Regions from separate parts of the Homo sapiens genome. Here region 2 is linked to region 1. The links come from fine-mapping of genetic effects on plasma protein levels. A gene starts in region 1. The other region holds a variant in brackets. All regions are shown on one strand. Distances are between the middles of the regions. Region 1 holds the start of GZMH (granzyme H). Region 2 has its middle 50 kb from the start of GZMB.

Evidence for each region. PIP is the chance, under the fine-mapping model, that this variant and not a neighbour inherited with it causes the effect. Protein levels are from antibody-based Olink assays in UK Biobank. Linkage for the fine-mapping came from a reference panel and not from the study's own genotypes, which makes the PIPs less certain.
Region 2: its variant is fine-mapped to the plasma level of the GZMH protein (UK Biobank, PIP 0.96).

The regions. Positions count from the first base shown.
Region 1 is chr14:24,600,529-24,617,287 of GRCh38, forward strand. GZMH (granzyme H) reads right to left here and starts at 9,157. Exons shown (of 5, transcript NM_033423.5): 1 at 9,031-9,157; 2 at 7,737-7,884; 3 at 7,084-7,219; 4 at 6,621-6,878; 5 at 5,952-6,218. The coding sequence starts at 9,085. The coding sequence ends at 6,075. RefSeq lists an enhancer at 5,239-5,738.
Region 2 is chr14:24,675,926-24,692,684 of GRCh38, forward strand. No RefSeq gene overlaps it. Among named protein-coding and RNA genes, the nearest start is that of GZMB, 50 kb to the left of the region's middle. RefSeq lists a silencer at 3,092-3,271. The variant G/T (reference allele first, on the strand shown) is at 10,150.

The sequences.
Region 1 (16,759 bases):
TACGGTAAAACTTTTCTCAAATGGGGACACCAGGTGGGCTGGTCTTTGGGCACCAGTGGTGGCAGTGGTGGGTTGGATATGCTGATCTTTGGGCCCCTGGGCAGTTACTTGAGCATTGATGGTAGTGGGTTTTTTCAGGTCAATTATTAAGCCTCCAGATGGCTTGCTTGGGTGCCAGCAGTGGCAGCAGTGGGCCAGGTCTTGGTGATGGACCCAAGGCAGGAGGGTCCTTGGGTCTCTGGGTGGTTTGTTTGGCATTTGTGATGGCAGTAGCAGTGTCAGGCCAACCCTTAGCCTCCCACAAAGCATGTGCATATGTTAGTGGTGGCAGTAGTAGGCTGGGTGGGCTAGTCCTCAGGCCCTTAGGTGGCATGTGCAAGTGGTTGATGGCAGTGGTGGTGGCAGCCGAATGGGCAGGCCTGTCCTCTGGCTCCTGGTAGGTGTGCATAGGGGTGCCAGTGGTGGTGGGAAGAATGGGTCAATCTCTGGGACCCAGATGATGTGTGTGAGTGCTGTTAGGCTGTGTGGGGATGATCTCAGTCTCCCAGAAGGTGTGCATGGGAGCCTGTAGTAGCAGGAGGGGCAGGTCCATCTGTAGACACCTGGATGATGCATGTGGTCACTGATAGGGGCTGTGCCAGCCAAAATAGTCCTGTCCTCAAGTCCTCTGATGATATGTGCTGGTGCAGACTGCAATGGGTGGGGTGGGTTGATATCCAGGCCCCCAGATGGTGCACTTGAGTGGCAGCAGAGGTGATGGTAGCAGCAATGGGTAGGGTGGGCCTGTCCACAAGCCCTGGGACAGACTCCATGTGGGCCAGTCCCCAGGACCCTAGAAGTGGCACTGCTGTATGGGTTGGGGAGGGTGGCGATACAGGGTTGCTGTCAGTGGCAGTGGTCCCAGGCAGATGGCTCTCAGGCTCTGAGGAACATGTGCTTTGGCTCACTTTGTCTCAGGGACAGGCTTATGCTGAATTCTTATGTTCTGTCTTAGAAATACTATTTGATACGTGATTATCTACCTACTGTTGTAGTCTTTCTTTGTGGAGGAAGCAAGTGCTGGCTGCCTCTAGCCAGCTATCTTTATCACCTAATATTAAATGGAAAAAGTAGAGTGTAAAACTATACAATTTGACACGAATTTGACAGAATTGTGGGAAAAGGGCAATAATCAGAACAACAATTTTATGTGATTCTTATTTTCACTTTATATTATTGATTTTTTTCTATAATGGAAATATATTCGTTTTATAAGCAGGAGAAGAAATGTAGAGCACATGATCCTTATAAACAGTAAACACCATTAAGCATTTTGATAGAGACAAGCCAGCAGTTTGGCAAAATAATTTCCTTTTCTTCTGAGGGAAGAAATGTAGTTCATTTCATTGATGAGCTACGTTGTCCACCTCACTTGGGGTTAGGTGTGGCTGTGTGATTGTTGCAGTAAATGAACGTGAGTGGAAATGATGTGGGCACCTTCCAGACCTGGCCCAGAACACACTCCTATGCCTGATCATCTAGGCTTTTCCTCTTCCATGGTTTGATGCAGAAGAAGTTGGGGAAGGATCTTTAGAGAACTGAGCCTGGATCTCTTAATCCTGGGCTGACCATGTAATTTGTTGGCCAAACTGGAACACGTAAGAATAAAAGGATGCAACTGTTCACTGGGAATATTCATTTTGTACTGTGTGTGGGCAAGATACCAACTTCGGCCGGGCGTGGTGGCTCACACCTGTAATCCCAGCGCTTTGGGAGGCCGAGACGGGCGGATCACGAGGTCAGGAGATTGAGACCATCCTGTCTAACACGGTGAAACCGCATCTCTACTAAAAATACAAAAAATTAGCCGGGCGTGGTGGCGGGCGTCTGTAGGCTCAGCCACTCAGGAGGCTGAGGCAGGAGAATGGCGTGAACCCGTAAGGCGGAGTTTGCAGTGAGCCGAGATCGTGCCACTGCATTTCAGCCTGAGCGACGGAGCGAGACTCTGTCTCAAAAAAACAAACAAACAAAAAAAGAACAGAAATCAACTTCTGTTGTGCTAGTCACTGAAATTCTGAAGCTTATTTGTTATAATAGGGTTATCTTAATTCACACATGTACAAACTTAAGCCAACCTTTTTCTCATATGGAATATTGTTAAAAAATAAAGTTAATATAATAATCGTAAAATTTAAAAAGTTGAATACATTACAAAATAGAAAGAAGAATCATGTCAGCCTTAATCCTACCACCCAGCTGACAGTTAACAGAGATGTACTTTCACCCAGATTGTTTCTTTGTATATTTTTACATAGATGTGACTAAAATATATTTATTTTTGAATCATATATTTTAAATTAACATAAACATTTTCCTCATTTTATTAAAAATCTATTAGTGAATATCATTTTAAAATGTTATTCATATCTAATAAACAGACTTTTAATTTACTAAATAATACATAAAAGTTATAGAAAAATTAAGAAAATAGATACATAGGAAGCAAAAATGCCTACAGGAAAAAGGTGTATATAAGCATGGCCAACTGTGATGGTTCATACCTGTAATACCAGCACTTTGGGAGGCCGAGGCAGGTGGATCACCTAAGGTCAGGAGTTTGAGACCAGCCTGGCCAATGTGGTGAAACCCCCTCTTTACTGAAAATACAAAAAATTGGCTGGGGGTGGTAGCACATGCCTGTAATCCCGGCTACTTGGGAGGCTGAGGCAGGAGAATCACTTGAACCACAGTGACCCGAGATCACACCACTATACTTCAGCCTGGGTGACAGAGCGAGACTCTGTCTCAGGGAAAAAGAAAAAAAGAAAAAAAGTGTATATAAGCACAAATTTAATTGTAGTATATACCAATCTATAATCTAGTTTTAGCATAAACATACCTGGTGAATATTCTTCCATGTGACAAAATGTAGTTATATATCGTAACTTCAGGGATTTCATAGTGTTTAATAATATGCAGCTTTAAAAAATGAATCCCCCAATTAGTGCTGGATATTTGCATTGTTTCTAAGATTTTACTTGTATACCAAGGTTGTTATAAGGAAAAACTGTGTTCAGTTTTCTTTGTGTGGTTGATGGCTAGGTCAAATACTTTTTTTTCCACATAAAATCCAGCTCCTGCAGGTCAAAGAATCTCTTTTCTTTTTTGGATCTTTGTGTACAAGCCGTGAAAATACCGTTTTCTCAATGCTTATACTGAATCTGAATATTATCATTTTTGTAAATCCTTCCCAATCAGATAAGCAAAAGTTATTATTTTAATTTGTATTGATTAATTATTTTCCAAATGTTTACTTTTTTCCAAATGTTTATGAGTTTTTTTTTTAAAAATGAACTTGCCTATTAATGTTGTTAGCCTAGTTTTTTATAGCTGTGGATAATGTAGATGTTAATGGCTGCAAAATGGATATGTTGAATGCATGATATTTTACCATTTCCCTATTTTGGACATGAATACTGATTCTAATATGGGCTCTATTATTAAATAATGTTGCAATGAACATATTTATGAATAACCTTCACACACACAACACACACACACACTCTTCAGATCTTACATAGGATAAAGTCCCATGCTCAATGTCAAGTGTTTCTGTTAGATCTAAGAGGGAAGACTGACCCACCAGGCACTCTCTTACTAGGGTCCTTTGGCCCTGGTGGCAGAAATCTTTGGTCACTCTGCCGCTGTCTTTGGCTTACACCCTGGGACTCCATAGAGCTCTACTTGGCTGGTTTTTTGGGGTCTTTGTGCTTCTTCTATGTGATGGCCCCCTGACTCTTACGTGTGCTGCTGGTCACTTGCTTATCTCTGCATATATTGACTCCTCTCTCACCTGTGCTGCTGCCAGTACTGCTTCCCAGGGAAAGGCTTGGGAGATAGACATCATGACAGCCTTATGTGAAAAATAAGTCTATTTGTTTTTCCTCTTATTTTTCAATGTGCTGGATTTTTTCCCTGTATGCGTGTGATTTATTTGTTATTCTTTTCAGTGAAGTTTCTACTTTTTTCAGTGTTGGTCCCATTTGTTTCAGTGTTTGCCAGCTATTGTGAGTTTACAGTGTTCTGTCACATTTAACTCATTAGCAGTACTATTTGAGAGATCAGGATCCTAAATAAAGTCAACGGGGTCACTATTATATTAACTGTCTCACACTTGAACTGTAGCATTTCTTAAGTTTGTGGACTGAGGTTAATGTCTTCTATATGCAGAATAAACAAAGCCAAGGCTGCTCTGGTTGTCTTCTTCCTTCCTTCCTGATATAATTTGGCTCCGTGTCCGCACCCAAATTTCACCTTGAATTGTAATAATCCTCACATGTCGTGGGAGGGACCCAGTGGGAAGTTATTGAATCGGGGGGGCCAGTTTTTCCTGTGCTGTTCTCGTGATAGTGAATAAGTCTCACGAGATCTGATGGTTTTATAAAGGGGAGTTCCCTGCACAAGTTCTCTTGCCTGCCGCCATGTAAGACATGACTTTGCTTTTAATTCACCTTCCGCCATGATTGTGAGGCCTCTCCAGCCATGTGGAATTGTGAGTCAACTAAACCTCTTTCCTTTATAAATTACCCAATCTCAGGTAAGTTCTTATTAGCAATGTGAGAACAGACTAATACACTTCCACACCTCTGGACACAGACTCCACTGAGCATAGATTAAAAACTTTAGGACCTGAGAATCTCCAAGTCTCTTCTAATTTCACACACTGTCCTTCTGGAATCAAGCCAGATCATGCATGTGAGGCTGTAATGAACACTACAGGTAGAATATAGATAATTTAATTATTTTTAAAACAAGATTTCTTGTAGATTATAAATACAGATCCGTTTGTGCCAAACTGACCTGCCTGGTAGAAGCAGAGGAACCAGGAGAATTGAGATGAAACTTTTTATCATTGTAAAATTTCCAAAAGCAGGGACAGGGCCTATTATATGCCTGGCACAAAGAGAGAGATCAGCAAGTATTAGTCTATTGATAACTGGCATAGTGTTACTTCCAGCCCAGTGGCCCTGGAGCCCTCTGGTGCACAGCTGCCATAACCCCAGATTGCCAACAGGGGGAGTCTGGGTCTGAAGCCAGGCTAGGCTGAAAGATGTTGAGGCTGCTGGGTGGCTCCCCAGAAGGTGATGCCTGAGACCCTGGGGAAAGCTGCACTGGACTGAGGGCCTCAGCTAGCCCTGCCCAGGTGGAAGGTGAGAGCTGGCTCCTCTGATCAGCATCAGGTGGGCTGGCAGCCGAGGTCTGGCTGGGACAAGCAGTAGAGAAGAATTCACACAGAGCTGGGAACTCTGTTAGGGACATGAGAGAGAGGCTGGCTTCAGAACAGGGTGATCTAGAAGGGAAAGAAACTGGTAGCCAGGGCACTTGGGTGAAAAACTCTTGGGAGCTGGGAAGGCCGGCCAGGAAGGAAGAAGGTTGACTGAGCTCAGGGCTGGGCCCAGGGCAGGGAAGAGGGACCTAGGTGCAGAGGAGCATCTCAACCTCCTAAGCTGCAGGCAGACCTGGCTGTGGGAGAAGCCTGCCCCCATTGGAGGGACAGGCCCTGAAAATAGGAAACTGAGTACTCATGGCATGGCCCCTGGCCTTCTGAGTCCCTGGAGTTATTTCCTTTCCACTGCCCTGCTCCATTCTCTGCTACGTTGTTAGGGGAGTAGGTAGTTGGTTTAGAGACGATAAGAAATTCCTAACGTCCAGAGAGGTTTATTTTTTTTTGTGAAGGGAGAGGGGTGAAGATTGTTTGTTTATAATGGAGTTCAAACCAGCTCTAACAGAGGGTTCAGTATCAAAGACATGTGATTGAGAAATTAGTGAAAAAACTGTACAGCATGGGGTTTAGGGAGGAGGGAGGGCTGGGGGAGAAAGGAAGAAGCAAAAGCCAGAACTGACAGCAGACGGCTGCCTGGAGCAGTGTTGTTGCATATTGAAGATGGTTCAGTGAATAAATAAGACTTCAGTCATATTTACACCAGAGATCCATTTATTACAGTCCTGCAACCCCGACTGCCCACCCCTTGGGGATTCTTGCCTCTGTCCCAGAGATGGTCAGGCCCAGAGGAAGGTTAGTCTCATGCCTGCTGTTAGAGGCGCTTCATTGTTCTCTTTATCCAGGGCAGGAAGTGTGAGACCTTGATGTAGACTCCTGGAGGTGTCCCTTTTTTGTTTCCATAGGAGAGAATACCTTGGGCTACGTCCTTACACACGAGGGGCCCCCCGGAGTCCCCCTGTGAACAGAGAGAGGAAAGACTGAGCTAGTGTTCCCTGGGATGGGTGGTCTCTGTTATGGATTTTGTGTGACATCAGTGCCAGGCAGGCCTTGTCACTCACCTCCCTCAGTCCTGGGTCTCCAGCATGGCCCTGGCTGTGCTTTCTGGCTCTCCCCAGACCAAGCCTTTCTCTGCAATTCTCACGGACACTTTGGTGATAAGTGACTGTCGGATGACAGATCCTTCCCCTCCAGCCACCCCAGTCCACCCAAGGAGTGGACTAAAGACTAGATTCCAGGGGGACACAGGCTGCCCAAGCTCTGGGCTGAGAGCATAAAGATCTGGCCACTGTCATACCCCAGAACTCCCTCAAGTTCCTCTCTCCCTGTGGTCTTTCTGGGTAGAGGCTGGAAACCCAACCTTGAAACCGGTCTGTGTCTTCTTTGGATCCCCCACACAAATCTCAGTGGCTCTGCTGTAATTGCCATGGAAGAGACGTTCACACTGGCAGTCCTTCTGCACTGTCAGCAACACTTCCTGCAGTGTGGTTGCTAAAGTGCTCATTGAGACATAACCCCAGCCAGCCACACTGCACAGCTGCCCTGGCTTCACCTGGGCCTTGCTGCTAGGTAGCCTGAGAGGCCGCACAGCTGTGGTCCACTTGGCCTTTCTCTCCAGCTGGTGGGGAAGAAGCAAGAAAGTCCAGGTCAGGCAATGGCCTTCTGGGCCCCGACACAGTGATGGGGCTGCACAATCTTCCCTCTCCTCTAAGGCACAGGAACTGACCAAGAGGTCAGGATGGAAAGGAGGAAAGGGCCGGCATCCCAGTGGGAGTGGAACCAACTGGACCAAGAAGAGCAAGAGTGGCAGGAGTGTGCCTCACCTGCAGTAGCATGATGTCGTTGGAGAAGTTCTTAGGATTATAGGCTGGATGGGGGATGGGTCTTTTCACAGGGATAAACTGCTGGGTCCGCTCCTGTTCCTTGATATTGTGGGCCCCCAAGGTGACATTTATGGAGCTGCACAGAGAGCAGAGTGAGGATGGGGGTGGAGTCACAGGGGATAGAGCCCAGGAGCAGTGAAGAGCAGATGACAGCTGTGGCAGGGTAGGGCTGCAGCTGAGGGGAAGTTGAAGGGACAGGAGGGCTCCAGGGCTGAGTGACTGTGCCCTCTACTTCACAAAGACATGAAGAGTAGGGCTTCTGGGGGCTCTCTCTTGCCTTCAGGAAATATCATGAAATTGCTCGAGTTTGCATTTTGATCCTTAATGCATGGATTCAACCTTTACTACTGCCTTATTGGGCCAGTGTGTGAAACCATGCCACTTGCTCTGACCTCTGACCCTCTGACCCTCTGACCCTGTCCTATTTCTCAGCCTTTCATCATCTTAGTCCTATTCCCAGGTGGCTGCTCCGATGAGCTTTCATGGGCTTGTGTTACCAGGAACTCTGGAAGCTCCCCTGGGCTGCAGTCCCCAGGAGAAAACAAGGGTCCCTGTAGGGGGAACTCAGGAGGTGAGCTGGTGCTGCTCCTTACCTTCCCTGGCAGTGAGCAGCTGTCAGCACAAAGTCCTTTCTCACTAGGATGCCGCCACACCTCTTCCGACTCTTCTCTTGCAGAAACTGAACAAAGGCCATGTAGGGGCGGGAGTGGGGCTTGGCCTCATGGCCCCCGATGATCTCCTCTGAAAGGAAAGACTGGAAGATAAAGTAGCTGGGGATGGCTGCAGTCAGGAGAGAAGGCTTAGGACGACAGTGATTGAGGGTGAAGTGTTTTGTGTGCTGCAGACAGTGAGGGAGGGGTCCTCCTGAGCTCTGCAGGCAGTACTCCTTGCAGGCAGAGCAAGCTTTTCTGAACTTTAAGTCTCAGAACCTTCTCTCAGAAAGAATGGACAGTGCTTGACTTCTGCATCCTACTGCAGAAACACACATGGAGGAAGAAAGATCTATTTTCACAGTGGTAGAGCCCCAGAGGATCCTGGACAGGACTTCCCAGGCTCCTCCTTTTTAGTGAGTCTCTCTGATTCCTCTGAGCCTCTGCTGTCCTCCTGATTGGTGCCATTTTCTAATGATCTACCCATGAGCTTCTGGAGTTGGATTTTCTAAAATTCTCATGTGCCAGGGCTGAACACATTCTAGGTTCTCAGTAAGTGTTGTTTGGTGCATAAATGAATAGCCTCCAATTAGCCTTTGGCTGAGGTTTAGTGGGGGTAGTGCTGGTGGGATTCAGGACCTCAGGGATGTTAGAGGGGGTTATCACCAGGTCAGTGGAGTAGCTGAGGGCCTGCAAAGGCAGAAGGAAGTGGAGAAATCAACTAAAAATGAATCGCAAAGCCCAGGTGGAGCCAAGGTAATGGGAGAGCTATGGACACAGTCATCTTGCCATCTCTGAGATCAGTTGCACCATGGGCTTCCCTCCTGGCAGGGGTGACTGGGTGGGGGCACTGAATAAGTGGTTCTTAAGCTGAGTCCAGTAACAACTCCTATGACTGCAACTTGGTGTCTGAGCTCCTCTTTCCTGGGTTGGAGTGTAGAGTAATAATTACTTATCTTTTTTAGCTTCACATTCCCTACCAAATGCCTTTCTAAGAACAATCCACACTCCAGGTCATAAAGGAGAGGTCTAGGGAGAGGCTAACACCCATTAAACCTTTTAGGGAACACCCTTCATTTTTCGATCTTTGCTGAGTGTCTATCTAGCCTCAGATTTATAAGTCTGGGTGTGGAATGGGAGGTGGGCTCAGATTGAGGAAAATTCCTGACCAGTGCTCATGGGTACAGGGTATCTTATAAGATGGGTTCAGGCCTCTGGAATAGGGATAGTCACTTACCTGTCCCAGCCCCAGGGGTCAGAAGAAAGGCCAACAGGAGGAGGAATGGCTGCATTTTCTCAGGAAGGCTGCCCAGGTCAGAGCTGTTGGTGTTGACTCCTTCCAGAAACAAATGCTGGAGGGAGATGAAGGAGGGATGGGTACAGTAAACTCAGAGACCTCCTAGACTTGTCCCCTTCTGGTTTTGATGGGTGTCATTATAGAAGGTGGTTTATTAAAATTATCTGGTTTGGTTTAAGTTGACATGGCACTGTCACATTTACACCCCTGCTGCTGAGTAACAAGGTGAAAGCAAGAATAAAGAACAAGGAGGTGGAGCTGTTGAAGCTGTGGCTGCAGCTAGCAGAAAGGCTGGTACTGCAGAAGCTCCTCAGTGACTGAGAACCAAGAATGTCTCCTTTTCTCAGTTCTTGGCTCTTTTTCTACTCAGATAAAATCATGAATAATTATTTAGCAAGCCAGATCCAGGGATATGAGAGACATGGCTCTTGCCCTTGAAGAATTGATGGTTAGCAAGAGTAGACTGAAAATCTGGGGTTAGAGCACAAGATGGTAAGGGCCGTGGTGGGGAAATCTGCCTGTTGGTGTGAGACGGAGGCTGGACTTGCCTTAGCAGTATGCAGAGTTGCACACACCCAACAAATACTGCAAATGGCAACCCATTCCTATCTTACCACTATCTCAGATTCATATTTTTGGGATATTTAGAATCCCCTCTTTAAATATAAATATTCTGTGACAAAGATAACTTTTTTTATTCCACAGTTCTGCACAAAAGTTCTGGACTTGATATTTATTGAACCAAAATGAGTCATCATTGGGTCCACTGAAGTGTAGTGGACTGATTGCTTTATGCTTTGGTTATTTAGCCCTCCTTAAGCTGAGGTGGGGACTGTTCCACTCCATCTATGGTGCTTATGAATGAGGAGGGGATTTCCCTTGAGAAATGCTAGTTGTTGTTGCCAGGTGATGGAAAAATGGATGCTGATCATCCTGATAATAATTGTTCACTAAGGCCGGGCGCGGTGGCTCATGCCTGTAATCCTAGCACTTTGGGAGGCCAAGACGGGTGGATCACGAGGTCAGGAGATCGAGACCATCCTGGTTAACATGGTGAAACCCCATCTCTACTAAAAATACAAAAAATTAGCCGGGCGTGGTGGCGGGCTCCTGTAGTTCCAGCTACTTGGGAGGCGGAGGCAGGAGAATGGCGTCAACCCAGGTGGAGCTTGCAGTGAGCTGAGATCGCGCCACTGCACTCCAGCCTGGGTGACAGAGCGAGACTCCATCTCAAAAACAAACAAACAAACAAACAAAAAACTGTCCACTAAGTATTCTCTCAGTTTCCAGAGAGCCATGTCTCTGATGTCCCTTGGCTCACAGTCATAGGCTGTCCATAAACAAAAATGTGTATATATACATATGTTTGTATATTTATGTATATGAATATATATAAATATATATGTATAGTTAAGTAGGAACATGTAAATGATAAAATTAAACTTACCAAAAATTCTACCACCGGAGATCATTATTAATGCTTAAGCATGTTTCCTTCTACTATTTTTCTAGGTATTTATAAGGTGCTATTCCTGCTATTACTTTAACAGAACTGGGATAGGACTTTAGGTGATAGACTTTTTTGTGATGAATTTTCCAGGTGTTCTTTGAGCTTCTTGTATTTGGATGTCTAGGTATCTAGCAAGGACAGGGGAGTTTTCTTCAATTATTTCCTCAAATAAGGTTTTCAAGCTTTTAGATTTCTCTTCTTCCTCAGGAACACCAATTATTCTTAGGTTTGACTGTTTAACATAATCCCACATTTCTTGGAGGCTTTGTTCATTTTTTAAAAATTATTTTTTCTTAGTCTTTGTTTGATTGGGTTAATTTGAAAGCATTGTCTTTGCGCTCTGAAGTTTTTTCTTCCGCTTGTTCTAGTCTAGTGTTGAAACTTTCCAGTGGATTTTGTATTTCTCTAAGCATGGCTTTCATTTCCAGAAGTTGTGATTATTTTTTCTTTATGATATCTATTTCTCTGGGGAATTTTTCACCCATATCCTATATTTATGTATATATATATTTTTTAATTTTTAAAGTTGTTTTTTCACCTTTCTCTGGTATCTCCTTGAGTAGCTTAATGATCTTCTGGATTGTTTATCTGGCAATTCAGAGATTTCTTCTTGGTTTGGATCCATTGCTGGGGAGCTAGTGTGATCTTTTGGAGGTGATATAGAACTCTGTTTTATCATATTACCAGAATTACCTTTCTAGTTCCTTATCATTTGGGTAGACTATTTCAGTGGAAAGGTCTGGAACTCAAGTCCTGCTGTTCAGATTCTATTATCCCATGGGGTGATCCTTTGATGTGGTGCTCTCCCCCTTCCCCTAGGGATGGGACTTTCTGACCACTGGACTGCATTGGCTGTTACTGCTTTTCTGGGTCTAGCCTCCCAGTGGCGCTACCAGGTTCCAGCTGGTGCTGGGGAATGTCTGCAAAGAGTCCTGTGATGTGATCTCTCTTCAGGTCTCCCAGCCATGGATACCATTACCTGCTCTGGTGGAGGTGGAAGGGGAGTGAAGTAGACTCTGTGAGAGTCCTTGGTTGTAGATATGTGTAGTGTGCTGGGTTTCTTGAATGCTGGTTATGCTAGCAGTGAAGTTTTCATGTGGACACACTCAGGACCTCTGTTTAGCCAGGATGTTGCAGGCATTGGAATTAGGTGTTATCTTCTCCTTCCTGGGTTCAGGGTTATTCTGTCATGAGTTGCTGTAATGGCCTGTGTTGTTTGGCCTCCAGCCAAGAAGTGGTGCTTTCAAGAGAGCACCAGCTGCATTGGTAGTAGAGGGATCTAGGTTTGCCCTAAGTTGGCCAGGGTGAGTATTTTGGTTTCTCAGATGATGGGTGGGGCCTGAAAGCTCCCAAGAGTTTCTATCTTTTGTGTTTGGTTACCAGGGTGAGTAAAGAAATACCATCATGTTGGGGCAGGGTTAGGTGGGTCTGGGCTCAGAGTCTCCTTGGGTGGGGTTTGCTGTGGCCACTGTGCGGGATGTGGGGGTGGTTCTTAGGCCAATGGGGTTATTTTCCAGAGGGGATCTTGGCTACCTCTGTTGTGTCATATAATTCACCAGGGAAGTGGCGGAAAGCTGGTAGCGAGAGGTCTCACCCAGCTCCCACACAGTTGGCAAGGCCAGTCTCACTCCCAAAGTGCCCCACTCAGATCTTGCCCAAGGCTGTGAACTTTCCCACTGAGAAAGCAAGCATGGATTTCAGATATCACCCCTCCCCATCTGCCCACTCCAACGGGAGTGGCTTCTTTGCTTCTGAGTTCATGTGCTCATATTGCCAAAGCTCCCACTCGTCCCCTAGACTCCACTAAAGAAAGTTTGTGTCCAATTGAAACCACTACCAATTTCAGTTGGAAGCTTCCTTCACCTGGTGACCCCTCCCCAATTCCACTGGCTGCCTTCCCTGAGAGATCCTGTGAGATATAGTCAGGAATGGCTTCCCTGGGCTCAAGCTGAAGATTGGAAGTGCCTTGCAGTCTTCTGATACTGATACTTCTACTTTTATATTTTGTGTGACTGCCTACATTTGTTTCAGTTCAAGGTAAGGTTAAATTCTCCCTTGATCTGGATTTTCAGATTCCCCAGTGGGGATGTGTGTTCAGAGGCAGGTTTTTTCCCTCTCACACTTTGGGAACTTACAGTTTTTCACCTGTTTTGCAAAATTTGCAGCAGTGTCCTGCTTCTTTCAAAGGGTGTGTGAATTCCTTTGGTTTTCCTGGTGTGTTCCCGTGGTGGTTCTTGGAACAAAAGAACACAGTATGAGTCTTCACATACTGTTGTGTCCATCTAAGTGGGAGTTGCATGTGGGTTTAAAGAAACCTGACTCATGAAGGACTTCCCATTTTTTGTACTGCCATGATCATCAGTGCATTATTACTGTCTCACACTGTTTCTTCATAGTGTCTCTCATCCTTCAGATCTCACCTTTTACTGGTATTATTATGGATCCTAGTAATTTATTTAAAAAACAGCAAAAGCTTAAACTCTCCTCCTTTGAGTCTCATGGGGTTGGAGTGGAGTTGTTGGTTTGGATCCTTGCCCAGGTAGCTTTCAGATCCAGCCCTCATCTTCCTGCTGCTCTTCTCTGTGACACAGTCTACATCACACAGATTTCTCTGTCTGACAGCTCTGTCTTCTTGGACCAAGCCAATGGGTGGTGCTGAAGAATTAGGGTCTTTTTCCTTCCCACTCTTTCTTCTTAGCTTGCGGACTGTTTCAGGATGACTCCTCTGCTCTCCTCCTGGCTCCAGCTCTCACCTGGCAGGCTAGATATGGTTTCATATTCTGCCAGGTGATCAGGGTCCTGGCAACACTGCTTGCTCCCTCCATGCCTCCAGCTAGGTGTGGTAGTGGCTTCCTGCTATTGCTAATCTCTCGGTTGATTCATTTTACCCTCTTTGGCTCCTGTCATGTAATCAGTTCCCTGGAATAAACTCCTTTTGTTTGCAAATATTTGGAGTGGTTTCTGTCTTCTTGGACCCTGACTAAGACACTCTGGGGTATTAATTTCTTAGTGCTGTTATAACAAAGTATTACAAACTGCTGGCAGCAGGCAACAGAAATTGATTCTTTCACTGTTCTGGAGGCCAGAAGCCTGAAATCAAGGTATCAGCAGAGTTGGTTCTTTCTGGAAGTGTCTGGCAAAGTCTGTCCCATGCTTCTCCTAGCTTCTAGGGGTATCAGCAATCCTTGCCACTGCCTCGGCTTGTAGATGCATTGCTCCAATCTCTGTATCTGTTGCTGGGTGATCTTCCCTGTGTGTCTGTGTCCACATTTACCTGTTTTAAAGTGATGCCAGTCATTTGATTAGGGTCCCTCTTAATCAAGTATGAACTTATTCTAACTTAGTTACATCTGCAAAACCCTGCTTCCAAATGCTGTCACATTCATAGGTGGTGGGTGAACATAAACTTTGGGGGGACACTATTCAACCCAATACAGTTGGATTTTAGTTTGAGTCTTTTGTTCAACAAACAGGCCGAGACAAGGATTTAGTTAGAGGTAATTAATTTTTTTTCTGAGATAATTCCAAGAGACTGGAGCGAGGAAGTAGGAAGAATGAAACAGGGAAAATAAGGAGAGCTAACCATGAGTGCATTACTGAGCTACCTATTGCTGTGGGTATCTGGAGCTGAATCCTGCTGGGGACTCTTTGAGAATCCATAAAGAATGGATGTCAGCATTGTCTTTCCAAAATTCAGGAGGCTGGGTCATTTGCCTGGTAATTCCTGTTTCCAGGTGGTTGAAATTTGTCTCTAGGAGCATTAATTCTTTCTCACTTGAGGGCTAAGACTGCTCTTGGACAGAACAAATTTTTATAGCTCCAGAGAACGTCCTGAGAGAAAAGCTCAGAGGTGCTTGGGTGCCTGGGCACTCGAGGGGCAGCCCAAGGCACAGTGGGCCAAAGTGATGTATTGCAAGGAAAATAACATCTATTTCCAGGGCTATCTATGACCCTCCTTATTATCCAGGTCTGGCCTGTGTCTTATGGAGGAGGTGAACTCTCTTTAATCAGTTTACTAAGGTTTCTTCTTTTCGCTTGTCACTGCTTCAGTCTTCTGAAGAGGCAAGGTCCCTCCCCTGGGGCTCCTGCTGCTCTCATTCACTCTTCAAGTGTGGCCGCTCTCTTCTGCATCTTCACCTCCTCTGATGATGGAAGAAGACTTGACTCATTGGCTGTGAAGGAAAGTTAAAAAGAAGTCATGTTTTGTGTTTCTTTTCTATTTCTTTTTTAAATTTACAGTTTCTATTATTGACAGTACTTATTATGTGTTTGTTGTGTTAGTGATGTTTCCGCACTCATCTGATTCAGAATTTGTACAGCCACCTTAGCTTTAGTGCTTTTGTTTCCGGTCCACTCACCTAGTGGCTGGCTGATGGAAAGAATATCCTAAGGTAACCGGTCTGGGGCCCCAGGAGCTGTGTGTGATGTGCTGGATGATACTGGCTAAGCTGGCTCACTCCACATGCTGAGTATAGGTGCCAGGGAGAGATTATGTATATAGTTTGTCATTTGGGGTCAGATCAGGGGGTCTAATGGCAGTCAGGGCTGAGTCATAGGGTCAGAAGAACACAGATGTGCAAAACATGTGAGCTGGGATACATTTTCTCTAATATTTTGAGGAGAGCTGGTGCCTGTAAGCTCGGGGATATCAGAGCTCATCACATTTCTAACTGGCCTGCCTAACTAAACAATCAATAAACAACTGAAGATAAAATAATGGCCAAAAAATCTGTGGCTTGATTATGTTAAAGTTGATTGAAATGAAACACAGTGACAAGTGCAAGAAAAAAACTTAAAATGTACCTTAGAAAGAGTATGTGGCTAATTAGTTTGCTGAATAAATGAGAAAATACTCTATATCATAACAACAACTAGAATTTACTGAGTCCTTATGTTTTTAAGTACTTTATGTTCTTCCTATCATAGAATTATCCCAGAAATTATGCAAGGTAGGTATTGATACTATCTCTATTTTTACATGAAAAAGTTGTGATCAAGAGAAGTTAAGTAACTTGCTCAATCTCACACTGTGAGGAGGGAGTAGCCAGGGTTTGAGCATCATAGCTTGATTCCAGAGCATCTGATATTAACCACTACACCACTAAATTCCATGGAATCTGGAAAAAAAGAGGGTCAAAGATTTTTCTACAGCTCTTATGGGGTCCTTTTCTGTGTGAGACTCACAGATACTGGAGATGAGATTCCTTGGCTCTGTTGGAGGACACAAAAACACTAGTGATTAGATAAGGATGGTGAAGGCCATGCTTAGAGGAATGGAAAGAATGATGTGGAGAAATGCAGAAGAAGGTGTGCTTCAGCACTAAAGATTTTAGTCATTTAAAACAATAACAATATTTACCTTGCCCACGAGCCTGCAATTTGGATCAGGGTTGGTGTTGATAGCTTGTCACTGCTCCCCTCCATGTCAGCAGGGGCAACTTGAAGCCTGGAGGCTGGAATCATTTGAAGGTTCACTCACTCACAGGTTCAGCAGTAGTTGCTGGGAGCTTCATGTCTTCTTCATGGCGGCCTCCCTATGTTGCTTCACTGCATGGTATTGTTTCTCACCACTTGGTGGCTGGGTTTCCCAGAGTGATCATCCTCCCAAAAAGTGAGCCAGGCAGAAGCTGTGTCCTTTTTGTTACCTAGACTTTGAAGTCATATGGTATCCATTCTACAACATTCCATTGCTTGGAGCAATCTAAAGCCCCCACCCAGATTTAAAAGAAAGGGACATAGACTTTGCCTCTCAGTGAGAGGAGTGTTGAAGTCATGTAAGGAGAGCTGCTGGGATGGGAGATGTGCAGTGGCAGTCATTACAGAAAGTACAATCTGCCACATTGCGTTAGGTGCATGAAGGATTCGTCAGAGAAGAGTTGAAGCTACTTTGATTGGTATAAGCCTTGGGCATAGCTTTTGGATAGACTGAGATCTGCTTTGTCTAAACTTTATATACTATGAATGGAAGGAGGGTTAGTTTTCCAGGAAGACAATCTCTTTAGTGAATTACTAATTCCATGTGAACTAAAAACTGATGCCAGGGAGCCAAATAGTATCCTCACATTTCTGTCTAGGACACATTTCTGATATCCTTGTACAATAGTCTTCCTTTATCTGCAGTTTCAATTTCTGCAGTTTTGGTTACCCATGGTCAACAGT
Region 2 (16,759 bases), 75 kb after region 1:
ATTATACTTTAAGTTTGGGGATACATGTGCAGAACGTGCAGGTTTGTTACATAGGTATACACGTGCCATTGTGGTTTGCCGCACCCATCAACTCGTCATCGACTTTAGGTATTTCTCCTAATGCTATCCCTCCCCTAGCCCCCCACCCCCCAGCAGGCCCTGGTGTATGATGTTCTCCTCCCTGTGTCCATGTGTTCTCATTGTTCAACTCCCATTTATGAGTGGGAACATGCAGTGTTTAGTTTTCTGTTCCTGTGTTAGATTGCTGAGAATGATGGTTTCCAGCTTCATCCATGTCCCTGCAAAGGAAATGAACTCATTCTTTTTTATGGCTGCATAGTATTCTATGGTGTATATGTGCCACATTTTCTTTATCCAGCATTTATGTGGCCAACAAACATATGAAAAAAAGCTCATCATCACTGGTCATTAGAGAAATGCAAATCAAAACCACAATGAGATACCATCTCACGCCAGTTAGAATGACAATCATTAAAAAGTCAGGATATGCTGCAGAGGATATGGAGAAATAGGAACGCTTTTACACTGTTGGCAGGAGTGTAAATTAGTTCAACCACTGTGGAAGACAGTGTGATGATTCCTCAAGGATCTAGAACCAGGAATGCCATTTGACCCAGCAATCTCATTACTGGGTATATACCCAAAGGATTAGAAATCGTTCTCTTTCTTTTTTTCTTTCTTTTCTCTCTCTCTTCCATTTAAAAGTAATTTGCAGGTATATTGCCTTTCTACAACTAAATTCTTCAGTGTGTTTTTCCAAAAGCAAGAAATTCTCTTTTAAACCTTGACCACTATTAAAATCCAAAGTTAATAATGCTATGTGCTATTATTTAATCTACAGAATTTTTTCATATTTTTCCAATTTTTCTAATAATGTCCCTTATAGCAATAGAAAATTCGAGATCATGCATAGCACTTTGTTGTCTTTCTTTCTTTAGTTTCCTTTAATCTGGAGCAGTTTCTGAGTCTTTCTATGTATTTCATGGCTTTGACAGTTTTTAAGAGGACAGGCAGTTGTTTTGTAGATGGTCCTCAGTTTGGGTTTGTCTGATGTTCCACATGATCACATGCAGATTATGGACTTTTGGCAGGGATCTCACAGAAGCAATGCTGAGTTTTTGCATCACATCAGGAGGCTCTGCTGTCAACGAGTTTCATTATTGGAAGTGTCACATTCCATCAACTGGTTAAAATTAAACCTGCTTGGTTTCTCCAGTAAGTTAGTACATTTACCAATTTACCTTTTGTAATCAATTAAGTATCTTGTGGGGAGATACTCCTTAAATGTTCTCCTACTAGTTGCAATCGTCTTGCCTAAAAGAATTATTATTAGGATGACTGACAAATTATTTTCTGATTTTGTCATTCTTTCTACATTTATTATTATCTGACTTTCTTCTGTAAAGAAAAGCCTTCCCTTCTCTCCTACTTACTGTTTATACATTCATTTATTTATATCAGTGTGGACTTTGGAATTCTTACTTTATTCAATAGGTTATAATGCTATTATTTATTTTGATGCTCAAATTGTCCCGTGTTTGAGGAAGTAGTTGATTTTAATTTTCAGGTGTTTGGCTTAGACAACTGATTGAGTGAGCCTGCTTTTAACTGAAATAAGAAACCAAGGAGGAGGAGAAATATGTTTCCACTTGTTGCTTTACTTTGCATCCTTTGACTACTTGTAAACTTTAATTCACATGTATTTATCTCCTTTTGTGAATCATTTATTCATATCCTGTGTCCATTTCCCTATTTGTTTTCAGAATCTTTTATTGTTTAAGGATATCAGTTTTTCTCTGACGTGAACATTACAAATTGCTTATTGAGAGGATACAATGAACTAGAAGTTTTACCAACAATCTTATTTAACCCTCACAACAATCCTCTGACATAGTACTATTATTATTTTCATTTTATAGATGAGAAGGCAAGAGGTCTTAGAAATATTGCTCCAAATCATGGGCTAGCAACCACTGAAAGCCAGGATTTAAACCCATATCTGTGATACCAAAACTTTGATTCTTCATCTATAATTTTGCATGCTGCAGGCATGCAAAACTTTTTTAATGTTTTAAGAATGCTGGGAAATTGAATGTCATCCCCACAGCCCTTTTAAAGTTGTAGCCACAAAACCAGTTATTGTAATTACATCTTAAATGCAGATTTATTGTATCTAGCATGTCAGTACAAGTTGTATCATCATACTTATGCCATAGCAGCATTCCACATTCGTACTTGACAGTTCATTTGGGACTCAGCAAAATAAATATGTGAAGTAAGTGGGTGCTCACATTAAGGCTTGTTGAGAATGATGTGACATCTAGGAGACACCTGGTAAGGTTCATACACTTTGTGAAGATGACATGGTAGGGAAATGAAGACCACTGACTGAGAGCACAGCAACCCTGGGAGGCCTCCAAACTTAACTCCAGGAAGCACCTCAGCCTTTTATCTGGGAAACAGAAAGTTCAATAAAAATGGTCTTTGGGCAGGACGTGGTGGCTCACACCTGTAATCCCAGCACTTTGGGAGGCCAAGGCAGGTTTATTTCTTGAGCCCAGGAGCTCCAGACCAGCCTGGGAAATATGGTGAAACTCCTTCTCTACAAAAAATACAAAAATTAGGCGTGATGTTGTGCACCTGTAATCCCAGCTACTCGGGGGGCTGAGGCGGGAGGATCGCTTGATCCTCCCAGGGTGGTCGGGGTGAGCTGTGATCACGCCACTGCACTCCAGCCCGGGTGTCACAGCGAGACCCAGTTTAAAGAAAAAAATAAAAAGTCTCTGAGGCCCTTTCTGTCCCTGACTTTCTGGAATTCTCCCATTCTTCTATAATAGGCACTTCTTGGTTTCCCTCATTTTTGCTTACTTTATTTTTCTTTCTCTTTCTCCTTGACGTGTCCTCTCTCCTTAACTTCTTTTTTCTCCTCTGATGTGCCTTAAATTTGCCAGGGGCTCCCTTTGGAAAAACCCTGCCTGGCCCTATTATCCCCCTGATCAAAATGGTCACACGTTGGTGGCCTGGGGGCTGCCCTCCTTGACTCATAATGCCGGGACCCCTGATTTACACAGCAGGAGAGGGAGTGATCTGCGAACTCCTGAATTGCCGCCTTTCAGTTCCTGCGGCTGCTCTGACTGTCTGCATTGCGCCCTCTAGTGTCCAGACTGAGTTCTTTTACTGTCTAGACTGGGGAGTCCAGAGCAGATTCTTTTACCCGCCACGTGAGGGAGCAATTCAGGGAAAGTAAAACTATTAGTAAAAGACATTATTTTATTTTCAAATAATCGTAATTTTACCGAGTTCCTAGAAAAATGCACATTCTTAAAATTTATATTGTAAAACTTGTTGAATAGACGATCAATTAGAATATGGGAAGAAAGGTTTGGTTTCTAAAATATTAATAAGCATATTTGACATAGCAACCCAGGGAAAGCATCTAGTCACTTATTCCTTGTGTTCATACAGTCCTGTCCTTTACAGATCCCCAAGAGTGTGCATGTGTTTGATCTAAGTTTAGCCCCGAAATAGCTGGAAGGAGCTATCTCTAGCCCTGACATTTCCATGAAGCTCCAGATGGCCCGCTCAACTCTCCACATGTACCGACAGACAAAACAAATGCAATTGTGTGCAAAGCAGAACTCTAGATTCCTCCTCTCCCGACCCTGCTCCACCCCATTCCCCCTTGGCACCGCCAGCCACTTATTACCATAGGCCCAAAGCCTAGGAGTCATTCTTGACCTTTCTCTTTCCCGCACCTTGCAGCCAGTTCACTGGTCATTCCTGTTAGCTCCACTTTCAAAATATATTCCAAATATAACCACTTCTTGGCACGGACACCGCTACCATCTTAGTCCAAGTCCTCATTATCTTTCTTTTGATGACAGCAGTAACATTCTAAGTGGTCTGCGTCGTTCTCCCCTCCCCTTGCCCTCACTTGCTTCACTTAAACAACCACAGCGATCTTAGAAAAATGTATCACATCTGTGTTCAGAACCCTCCAATGACTTCCTGTCTCATTTAGAATTAAACTGCAAAGTCTTTCCCATGGCCTACTCTCTGACCTTGCCCTCCTCCACTCTTCCCACCCCTCACTCCTTTCCACCTGCAGGAATGTCCTTTCTGAAATGCTCTATTCCCAGATCTTTATTTTCTCCTTTGCTTTCTTCAGGTCTCTACTCGAATGCCAACCCCTCAGAAAAGACTCTCTTAGCCACCCTGTCACGGGTAGCCACCTCCACACTCTCTGGTCCCATATCCTGATGTATTTTTCTTTCAGCATTTACCCCTGAGAGAAGATTCCCTGTCTCTGTGTGTTCATACTCTGCCCTCCCCTGACTAAGATGTAACTAAGATGTCAGATTCATGGCCAGATCATTTGTTTTGTTCCTTGCTGAATCCTCAGCTTTAAGCATATAGTGGCCATTCATTGATGGATGAAGGAATAAATAAATTATTAGTTTGAACCTTGTGAAATTGTTGACATTCTAAAAATTCTGGGCCACAAAAATAGCAATTCCAATAGTTCATCTTCATAATATAATATCGTTAGCATTTTATACCTAGGAAAACTGAAACTCAATGAGTCAAGTGACTTCCCCAAGTGAAATAAAGAAAGAATGAGAGGCAGACTGAGAGCACTTCATTTCGTTCATGCAACACTGAATTGTGTTCTGGACACTGCTAGGTGTGGGAGCCACTGAGGAGAAGGGCCTGCCCCATCTCCTAACTCAGCCACTCTGCCTTTGTGGCTAAAGGATCTCTTGCCAGCTCTGACTGGCGGAATGGGCAGGGCTACGTGTGAACCCAGAGCAGCCACCACCTCTCTGCAGAAGGGCCAGTGTCAGGGCAGTGTGGACTGATCCCCACTGCTTCTGTGACCTCTGGCACTCAGGGCTCCTGCCTGGTGGGCCTCGACCCTATTCCTTCTGTCTCAGAGGAAATGTAGAAAAATGTAGAACTGCTTCTGCATAGTGCCACTCCTCTGTCTATCCCCAATCTCCTCTTCAACATTGTGAAGCTGGAAATGACGCACATAGGGCACCCTCTTGACTGCTACTCCCCATGCATTTCTGACCCTCATAAGAGAGGCTGGATGGGAAACCACACTGATCCTCCAATACTTCTATGCTCAATAAGCCATCTGTGAGTTGGAAAGGAATTCAGAAATGGGGAAGGGGGCAGGTCGACCTATTTTGCTTTCACAGCAAAGGGTGTGTAGCATCAGGGTGACATTCAGGGCTGATTATTAGGTTGGTGCAAAAGTTATTGTGGTTTTTGCCATTACTTTTGCACCAACCTAAAAAATGTGTCAAATTTTTCTTCCCCAGACAGCTGGCCCTCTGAGTCACAGTGGGAGCAGTATGTAACAGGAGGGGAGAAGAAAATGAAAAAGCCACACAACTGTCTCTTTCTTTGAGCCCTTTTCCAAGCTCTCCTTAAATTTTCAGTTTCTCCTCTTGGTCATTCTCCCCAACAAGTGCTTTGTTTCAGAATTATTAATAACTGGAAAAGTTCTGTTTTTTTTCTCTTTAACTGGCATTTTGCTTATCCTGTGGCTTATTGAGCCCTAGGGAATTTATGCCCTATAAATAAATGACTATTATTATTATGTAGCTGTATTCAGAGCATTAGTTGAAAGGGAGAAGTGACATTTTTCTTTATTTGCTTTAGAAATGTGTTGTAGTCACAATAGCTCTCCTCCTGCCTGGGATTAATGGCATAATTATTCACACCGGGCAACAGAGATGGAATGAGTTTGAACTTGGCATGAATTAATACACCAAAATATGCCTCTTGTTCTTGCTCACTGCCTAATTAATTCTGAATTATGAAATTCTCTGTGAGCTACCCAAAAAGCATGGTCACCGGATTCTGGTGCAATTGTTCTTTCTTTGCACTAAAAATCAAGTGATTTGATAGTTATGGGCTGTTTGGAAAGAGAATGTCCATTTGAATATCCTAGGAAGGAAGGAACAGACCTCATAAGGGATTTTTCTAGAGGTTTTATAGTAAATAACCTGTGTATGATGGACATGCAAGGGCCCCCAGGGGAGACTGAGCTTTGCATGAACCAGCTTTACTGCTAGAGAAATAGAGGACTTAGGAGTACTGTGCCTTGATGTCTAGAATTTACACTATAGAAGGCCATGCCTTTGGATTAGGATATTTTGTTCAGAGGTTCCCAGTTAAATATGAATGAGTTGTCCATGGAGAATAGCACAATCACCTACCAACTCCCAACATAGGGTAAGGAGAACTTGCCACTGCATGACCAACTTTACTCACACTTTGCTAGCTTTTGCCAACACCTCTGCCGGGGATGAAGAATCATGTGAATTATTGGAGCTCAAGACATTGAGTATATGAGCAGTTTCTTATTGTGGCATAAGAAACACAAACACAGCCCCTGCTCCCTTGCTCTCTCTTTCATCCCATGGGGGTATGAAAGTGAATTCAGGACTGATCACTCTCTTCAGTTGCCCTTTCTGCAGTTACCTAGAGAGGATAAAATCCCATTAATTGGATTCAGGACTTGGACAAGAAGGTTGAGCTGTAGGGTCTTAGTCAACCATTATTAGGACTTTGACCTGGAGTTTTGGGGCACTTGTACACCATCAGTACAGGATATTTTAATTCTTATTTGTTTTATTCTTTGTGGGTGCCCCTCCCACAGTCCTCGGAGAACTGAAGGGGAGAGAATAACTGGCATGACAGTATTTTAATATCTTTCTTTGTGTTTTTGGCAATGATATGATCTAACACTATCAATATAAAAATTCTAATGTTAAATATGGTATATTCATTGCTCATCTGAGCATCAATTAGTGCATCCTCTTACCTTGAAATGATGGCTTTCTACTGGATTTCCCCATCCACATGTACACATCCTGTGCTATCTCTCATTTGGAAAACAAAATGAGACAGGAGTCTGTAAACTTCTTCATTCCCTTCAGGTAATTCTTCATGTCTCTGCTTCCCTTTAATGAAAATTTATAAAAAAAAATGTGTATTTTTGTCTTCATTTTTTCAACTTATATTCTATCCAATTCTTGCCAATCTATGTTTCCCACCAATTAATGGAAATCATCTTTGTTAAAGTCATCAATATCCTCCTCCTTGCTAAATTTAGTATCATTTCTGTATCTTTTTCTTTTCCTCAGCAGTGTCTGACACTATGGACTATGCTGTCTTTCATAAAGCACGTTTGTTTGTTTGTTTGTTTTTTTACTGGCCTCTCATCTGGTTCTTTCCTGCTTCCTTCTAACATCTTTGTCCATGGTTTCTCAGTCTGTTTTCCTGGAGTCTCCTCTTCCCAGGCTCAGTCTGTCTCTTTATCTGTGCTTATTCCCTATGTAATCTCATTGAGTTCTATGGCCTTAAATACATTACCCATACACAGATGACTCCTGTGTTAACTAACTACTGTCACAGTAGCAGGTAGCCCCAATATCTCACTGCCTTACAAAAACGATTTATTTCTTGACCATTTACGCTAAGGCTGTGGGTCAGCTGTGGCTCTGCTTAGCTTTGCTAAACTCAGTGTGACTTATCCTAGATTGAAGAGCCCTTTTCTGGAATACGTTGTCTTATTGTGGAAAATAGAGCAAGAGAGTGCAACACAAACCATGAAATCATATTTAAAGCTTTTTCTCAGATATGTACATGTCCTCACATCTTATTAACTGAATTATTTCATGTATCCAAATATGTGAAGTGGAGACACATTGTCTCTCCGAAGAGGGAAGACAACTCACATGACAGAAAGTGAGTGAGGATAAATCATCCTATTAGACTATGGGAACAAATAATTGGGAATAATAATCTATCATGATCCAACATTGATCACATATATTTTCTTCCCTCAGAATACATCATATTCTTGCCCATAAAAACTTAGCCTAAGGGCTGGCTGACACCTGTGATTCCAGCACTTTGGGAGGTTGAGGCAGGAGGATCACTTGAGCCCAGGAGGTTGAGGTTGCTGTGAGCTGTGATCACACCACTGCACTCCAGCCTGTGTGACAGAAAAAGACCCCATCTCTAAAGTCATTTAAAAGCAAATTAGCCTAAGGGCCAACTTTGCTTTTCAAATAGTCACAGACTGGCAGCACTTTTGACAACCTAACTCTCTCAAACACTTTGTTGTATTGTTTTAATCTATTTGGTACTGGTTGGATCCATGTTCCAATAGACACAACCATTACTCATTTCAAGAAAGACTTTCTCTAGACTTGATTATGGGTATGTGGGTATATCATGCTTTCATAGGAACGTACTCTTGATCTCTTTTCCCTGAGCCGTTTTGTCCAGTGGTGGAAAAAAAAATGTCTGCAAGTCACCTTAATCCAACCAGAAATCTTAACATAGGCCTGATGATGACACCTTTGGTTCTGTCTTTGCCCTGAGATGGAGTATTAAAAGGCCTTTCTATTTCAAGGAATACTTAAATTTTATATTTTATAGGTGGGAGGTGAGAAGGATTTTATTGTCCAAACTTGAAGGCCCAGAATTTCTTTGCTGCCTATTTTCCATCTCATTCATTGAAATAGGTGAATTCTTTCTGAGCTCACCTCTTATTCATATTACCATCATGCTCTCTTTCAATTTTTCAATCCTTCTATATTTGTCCATATGCAGCAAGTCCATTAGGAACATTATCTGCCTTCCAAGTTTAGAAGACACAATTTGACCAAACTTTTCACGACTGCATATCATGAATCTTACTTGTCCAACCTCCTGGAAGAATTCCCTTGCTACCTAGCCCTAAAGTTAATGCCTCATATTTTATATTTTTAGATATGGTAGCACTTCTGTTACCAATTTTTTTATTAGTTGGCCTTTACTGAGGTTGCAAATAACTCCAACATATCAGTATTTAACAACAATAAACATTTATTGATTTCTTGTTCATGTTACATGAGGGCTGAGGGATTATCTGTGACTCAGCTCAGCTTGACTGTGTTCAAGTCCATGCGTCTTTTTATTTCAGGACCCAGAACTGATGTAGCCACCCTTATCTTGGACATATTGTTCTTATAGTGTGGAGAGCAGGAACAATAGAAACAGAGGTAAACCAGATAATCACATCAGAAACTTCTAGTTTGACATAGGAAACTTACATCTGGGTGGCCAGAACATGCTCATAAATTCCATGAGGAAGGAAGGTATAGTCATCCCTGGAAGAAAAAGTCACATGACCAGAAAGAGAGCAAATAGCTGGGGTCAATAATACAATCTTCTAAGACTCCCAGATGTATGTCTTTAGCACTGGCATCTCTTCCTTTTGAGCACCAAACATATATTTAACTGCCTACCCAACATTGCTATTGAGATGTCCAATAAGCATCTCAGATTTAATATGCCTTAAACAAAACTCCTGAGTGCTCTGTTCACCCCAACCTGTTATGCCCTGCCTTCCATACCTCAATAAATACCATCAGTATTCTCCCAGGTAATCAGGAGGAAACCTCCAAGTTTTATTTGATTCGCTTTTCCCTTTCATAGTCAATGCATGAGTAAATTCTGCTGGTTCTACCTTCAATATACATCCCGATTTCTTACCATCGCCAGCACCATCATCCTAATAATCTTCTAACTTGTCTCCCTGCTTCTATTCTTGCCTCCCTAGAATAAATTCCTCATACAGAAGACAGAGAGATCTTTGAAGCATGCAAACTATATCTTGTTAGTCCCTGCCCCAAACCCTGCAACGTCCTGGTTCCTACACAGACACTGGGTTTCTATTCTACATGGTCAAGTCAATAGTAGGTTCAGAGTGACAGAAAGATCAGTATTAGAAATTTATACACTTGGGTAAATCAAAAGAAATCTACTTCTCTAAAGGACAGTAAAAGCCCCTGTAGACTACACATCAAATGTATCAGCAACATTTTTCTGGACAAGTGGTGATTGTAAGCTTTTGGATCTCGAAATGTTTCATTAGCTATGAGTTCATGTCCTTTGTAGGGACATGGATGAAATTGGAAACCATCATTCTCAGCAAACTATTGCAAGGACAAAAAACCAAACACCGCATGTTCTCACTCATAGGTGGGAATTGAACAATGAGAACACATGGACACAGGAAGGGGAACATCACACTCTGGGGACTCTTGTGGGGTGGGGGGA[G/T]GGGGGAGGGATAGCATTAGGAGATATACCTAATGCTAAATGACGAGTTAATGGGTGCAGCACACCAGCATGTCACATGTATACATATGTAACTAACCTGCACATTGTGCACATGTACCCTAGAACTTAAAGTGTAAAAAAAAAAAAGTTTCATTAGCTAGCCACAGGTCACAGATAGCAATGTCTGAGTGAGTGAGTGTCACATCAGAACATTTGGAAGCTCAACCATCTCATTTTAGGTTCATTAAAAAAATTTGTATACATTTAAGGAGTACAAAGTGCAGTTTTGTTACATGGATATATTGCATAGTGGTCAATTCTGGGCTTTCAGTGTAACCATCACCCAAATAATGTGCATCGTACCCATTAAGTACTTTCTTGTCCCTCACCTCACTTCCACCCTCCCCACTTTATAGTCTCCAATGTGTATCATTCCACACTCTATGTCCATGTGTCCACATTATTTAGTTCCCACTTAAGTGAGAACAAGTGGTATTTGACTTTCTGTTTCTGTGTAGTTTCACTTAAGATAATGGCCTCCAGTTCCTGCATGTTCCATGTTGCTGCCCCCATCTCTACTACAAATACAAAAATTAGCTGGGTGTGCTGGTGCGCGCCTGTAGTAGCAGCTACTTGGGAGGCCGAGGCAAGAGAATCGTTTGAACCCGGGAGGCGGAGGTTGCAGTGAGCCGGGATTGTGTCACTGCACTCCAGCCTGGTGACAGAGTGAGACTCCATCTCAAACAAACAAACAAACAAACACCAGCAACCATGAGTTCATTCTTTTTTTATAGTTTGTATAGTATGAGGCTGGAAGAGTTCCGTGTGTCTCTTGGTATGGACTGTGGTTGGAGCCCAACTCTGCTGAACCAGGTACATTCAGGGTTATCCAACATCTAAGATCACTGGAGAGAACAGCATGCCACCATAGGTTTAGATGCAAATACAGCCCTCAGTTGACACCCCATCTTCCCCAGGCTGATAAAGCCTGATCCAAGTGATTCCTGAATGCAGTCATGTAGATCTAGGCTCTGTTATCCAGGAGTCCCTGAGAGTCATGCTAACTGGCCTTCAATGTGGTTCTAGTCCTCTCCTGCAGTTCTCCAGCATACTTCAAATAAAATTCAAAGTCCCGAAAATGTTTTTAAGGTCCAACATAATCTGGTTACTGCCTAACTTATTTCTTCTGCTGTGGCTACATTGGCTTCTTACTGGTCCTAGAAGATGCCAAGCTCATTTCTGCTTCAGAAATTGCACATGTATGGTCCCTTGAATGGATGCTCTTCATAAATCCCTCAGATGCCTTCTCTCACCATTTCATTCAGGTCTCTATCCACATGTCACCCCTCAACAAACACTTTTGGTCACTCAATCCAAAATAGCTCCTGCTCACATTCATATCACTTTATATTGCCTTTTTGTATCCACAATACTGACCACTCATCACTTGACATAATATGTTTATTTGTTTACTCTTTGTCTTCCCCACTAGGACATAAAATCCACAAGGGCAAGCATTTTGACTGTATTGGTTCCTTATGTATTCCCATCAATCGGAACAGCACTTAAAGAATTAAAAATGCTTAATAAATATTTGTAGAATAAATAATAAAATGCACGAGTGAATAAATGAGACAAAAGAGTTTGAAGAGGAATAAAGAAAATGTCTAGATGATGAAAATCCTTCTGACAACACCACACAGAAGTACAGTATTGTTTTATTGATGAGGAAACTGAGGCTTAGTTATTTTCCCCACAGTTGGTAAGGGGTAGAGTCAAGGCTCATTCCCAAATCAGTCTGATGCCAATGACATAAAAGCAAACCTTATGTCATGCGTGCATCCAGGGGGAGCATGAGATGAAACTTGGGTGTGGCAGGAAAATGAAAATGTCTATTTCTGTTCTTTTATAAACTTATGTGATTTTAATTTCTATTTTTATAATATATGCAATCATATAGTATACCACTAATGCATGTATATTTTATTACTAAATACTCACAGATAGGGAATATATGCTCTAAAAATATTTGGAGGCCACTTATCTGAGTTGCCATCTGTTTCTAGGAGGTTCTGAGCAGGGTGGGGTTAGTGGGTGTCCATGGTGATAAGGAACAGAGAGGAAGTGGAAATGGAAGGGAATAAAATGTTGACTTCTTCAGCCTGGGTCTGTGGGTGGGGCAAATATGTAAGTGTGACTGTAAGGGTCAATTTTCTCAGATGTGTGTCTGGTGAGAATCCCCAACTTGCCACCACCATAGCGAATAGTGGTCTGAATTAGTTTCAGGACAGGACTGGGCACGTAACCAATGGAGGCTAACGTCTCTAAAGACATACTTATCCATCCAAACTCAGGAGAGGGCCAGGTTGGGAATTGCTTCCTCATTCCTTTCCTTCCTGCTGTCCTCCATCTTCTCACGTGCATTCGCAACTGTGTGCTCTTGCACACACACCCAGCACAGATACACACTTCTGCACTTAGAACTTCTCACCAGCTCAGAGGAAGACCTGGGTTGAAATGGAGACCGTAAGAAAGTGAAGAGGCAGAAGAAATGATCCATTCTAGATCTCTCATTCTGTAGATTAGGAGACCAAGACTCAGAGAAAGAAAATACAGTAGTTCCTGGCAGAGCTAGGATTAAGTTCTCTCAGTCTCTTGACTTCCAGCCTCTGCAATCCTCACCCTTCCACGGAAGCCATTTTACCTCATTTATGCCCATTTTCTTACAGTGTAGTTTTATGCAGAAGGCTGGCCACATTCTCACAATACCAGGTCTTTAGAGCACTGCAACCCAGGAGGCCCTCAATAAGGAGGGTTCACATAGATGAACCTTCCACATGAAGCATGTGCTTTTCCTTCAGTTTCATATGATGTGATCCTCACTCAGTAAAGCCTGTGAAATATATTCCAGGAAGCACTGAATACTTCTTTCATCTTTATTTATAAACTTCTATGAGTCCTCCCAGCCCGTCCTCCAACTAGCACATCCTCACTGCCTTACAGAGCAGGAACCCAAGCAAGTACTTGAAGCTTAATTGATCTGGATGTTTAGAATCAAACTTCATTAGCTGAAATTACTGCAGTTTGCCTAATTTGTTTCTCTATGTGAGCTCTGATAAGGTTGGTTTAACATCTTCTAAACTGTGGTGTTTATCATCATCAATGCCTACTCAAATTACCCCTGCAGAGTAATGGGCCAGGAGAAAAATGGTTTAAAAGTTATAGCTATTTTTTGTGGACATTTCTACACATACCATATACAGTATGTGGTGTCCAAGTCACTACAAAAAAGCACTTATTTCCACAGGGCAACTTCACTTTTTAAAAACAAAACACTGCCAGAAAAATCTTGTCAATCATCAATATTCAAACATTTTTAGGTGTTAGAAATTCTATACATTTTGAGATTTTTTTTTCTATTTATAGACAGTGATTAAACCCATTGTTTTGTTATTTTTCCAGTCTGTTAGAGACTTTTGACTAACCTGTGTGTGTGTATGTGTTTGCAAATACATACATTTGTGTTTGTGAACAAAGCATTAATTTAAAAGAGGTTTGTCTCTAAGAATGACTCTATTGATCTATTCCAAATGCAAATAAACTTTTAGCATGATTGAAAGTCGTATTGAGTCTCCAGGAGGAACAATGGCTACTTACAGAAGCAACGGTTGCTTGTATAAGGAACAATGGTTGCTTCTATAAGAAGGGGCACTGTGAGGGAAACTTTCTCCTATAAACCCATTTATCTATCTTTAATTGCACATGTTATCTTCTCCAATAATTAAAAACAAAAAATGCATTGTCAGTAACAATAATCCCAAATAATCATTTTTCCATACTACTACTACCTGTTAGTGGTGCTATATATATAGCTTATATTACTATCTACATACAAATACGTCATTTCAGTGTGTTCTGGCAGTAGCCAGGTAGGTGTTTGAGCGTTGTGTTGACAGTCTAACCATTGGTAATTGCTTTAACATGGAAATTTAATGTGAGGAAGCATGGCCAACATGCAGAATATAGAGACTTATTTTAACATCATCACACGTACCTCAGTATTTTGTGTCCTTCTCCTAGGATGAATGAACATTTCATTCATTCATGCTGACAGAAGCTCTGGTTTCAAAAGGGACAAGTCGCCACCAGATTTGTAAGAAGTGTGTCTTTTAGATGGTCTAGTTAACCTTTCTATATTGATAAAAACCAGCATTATTTCCACATTTCCTCATACTTCTTAAGTATACCCACTTGTGCTAGAAATGGAAAATTCAGAAAATGAAACATGTAATCCAGAGCCCAAACACCATGCCTACAAAAAATAGGGAACTCAGCTAATAAAGCAACATTTGTCTTTCTTATTTGTTAAGTTATCTACATGATTGTATCAATTCTTGACTGAAATACCATGCACCCCTGGACTGACTGCCTGGGAGTACAAATGATGTAGGGAGTAATTGTGGTCACACTGGCATGTGTATTTAGGTTTCACTTAACAGTTCTCACCAGGGGAAATGTGAAGCACCTGGCCCCTTGTCCCTTCTCAATGTCTCCCCGACATCTGTTATTTTAAGGAGCCCTCCAGGGGTCACTCTTCACTTAAGGCTCACTCTAGAATACCTCTGAACTCCTTCTCACTCCTCTGGCGGCTTGTGCTTTGCTGTTGTTCACTTGCAAGCCTCTTTCCAGGCGCTTCCTCCAGGTTAACATGACACCACTGGAGCTGCCCACCTGGCCAGGAAATGCCACCTGCCCTGTGTGTGGGCCCTTGCTGCTGCCATCCACTTGCCAATGGAGAGGGAAATACCCACCGTCTTCATTGGGTCTGACCCTCTTACCGGGATCCCACAGCCAGGTTTCATGGCCCAGAGCTGCTCCAGTGCTTTGGCTTTTTTTTAGAAAACAGCTTTATTCAGATAATCACATACTATACAACTTGCCCGTTTAAAGTGTGCAAATCAGTGTTTTTTGGTATATTGTGTTATTAATTTTTAAAAATTATAAAATGTATACAACAGAACATTTACCGTTTCAACCACTTTTAAGTGTACAATTCAACGGCACTAATTACATTCACAATGTTGTGCAAACATCACTATTTCCAAAACTTTTTCATCATCCCAAACAGAAAGTCTTAACCATTAAAAAATAACTCCTTATTTCTCTCTCCTCCAACACGTGGCAACCTCTAATCTAATTTTTACCTATGCATTTGCCACATTCTAAGTACCTCATATATGCAGAATCATACAATACTTATCTTTTTATTTTGGTGTCTTTCATTTAGCATAACGTCTTCCAATTCATTCATGTTGTAGCATGCATCAGAACTTCATGACTTAATGGCTGAATAATATCTCGTATGGCTATACCACATTTTGTTTTTACCTGTTCATCTTTTGATGGACATTTAGGAGGTTTCCATCTATTGGCTATTGTGAATAATGCTGCTATGAAAATTGGCTTATAAGCATCTATTTGATACAATTGTTGGATCATATGGCAATTCTATGTTTAACTTTTTGAGAATTGCCAAACTGTTTTCCACAGCAGCTGCACCAAGGTACATTCCCACCAGCAATGCGTGAAGGTCAACGCTTTTACTTTTACACAAATACCACGTTTTCCCCCAAGGCAGGTAAACACTGACAGGGCTGCTTGGAAAGGACAGTTTCAGTTCACAGGTGGATGTTCAGAGGTACCTAGTGCCTCATTCTAACCTGGTTTCTCTTTGCTCCTTCAGTTGTCTGCTAGTCATATTTGTTCATGCCTGGCCCCCAGTTATTAATACAGGTTGAGTTCTAGTCCCCGAAACTTTTTAAGCCTTAATGCAAATTAGTCAAAAAAACGCAGATATAAGAAAGGGGACCCACTGCTAGTTCCAGACCCAAATGTCTACTTTGGCTTAGCTGGGTGAAACTTTTAATACTGTATTTATGTAGAGACTGAGCTGGTGGCTCTGCCTGAAAAGGCTAAACAATTTAACGAAAAAAAAAGTCATTCATTCGATGAGTTATGAACTGGTTAATAAGCCATGTGAGTCCAGGCCCTTCAGGAAGCAGGCACCGAGATGGGATGAAGGCTGGACATGGTGGCTTGTGCCTGTAATCCCAGCACTTTGGGAGGCTGAGGCAGGAGGATTATTTGAACCCAGGAGTTTGAGATCAGCCTGGCCAGCATAGGCAGACTCTGCCTCTATAAAAAGTAGAAAAAAAAAAAGAAAAATTAGCCAGGCACTATGGTGCACACCTGTGGTCCCAGCTACTTGGGAGGCTGAAGTGGGAGGATGGCTTGAGCCCAGGAAGTTGAGGTTGCAGTGAGCCATGATCACACACTGCGCTCTAGCCTGGGCAACAGAGCAAGACCCTGTCTCTCTCTCTCTCTCTCCAGAAATACATTATAATATATAATTAAACATATAGAAGTTATTATATATTTATAATTTAATTATAATTTTAAAACAATTTAATTATAATTTAATTCCTATATATTTAATTATAACATATAATTAAATATATATTTATATTTATACATTTAATAGAACTATATATTTATTTATATTTATATATTTAATAGAAATATATATTTATATTTATCTATTTAGTAGAAA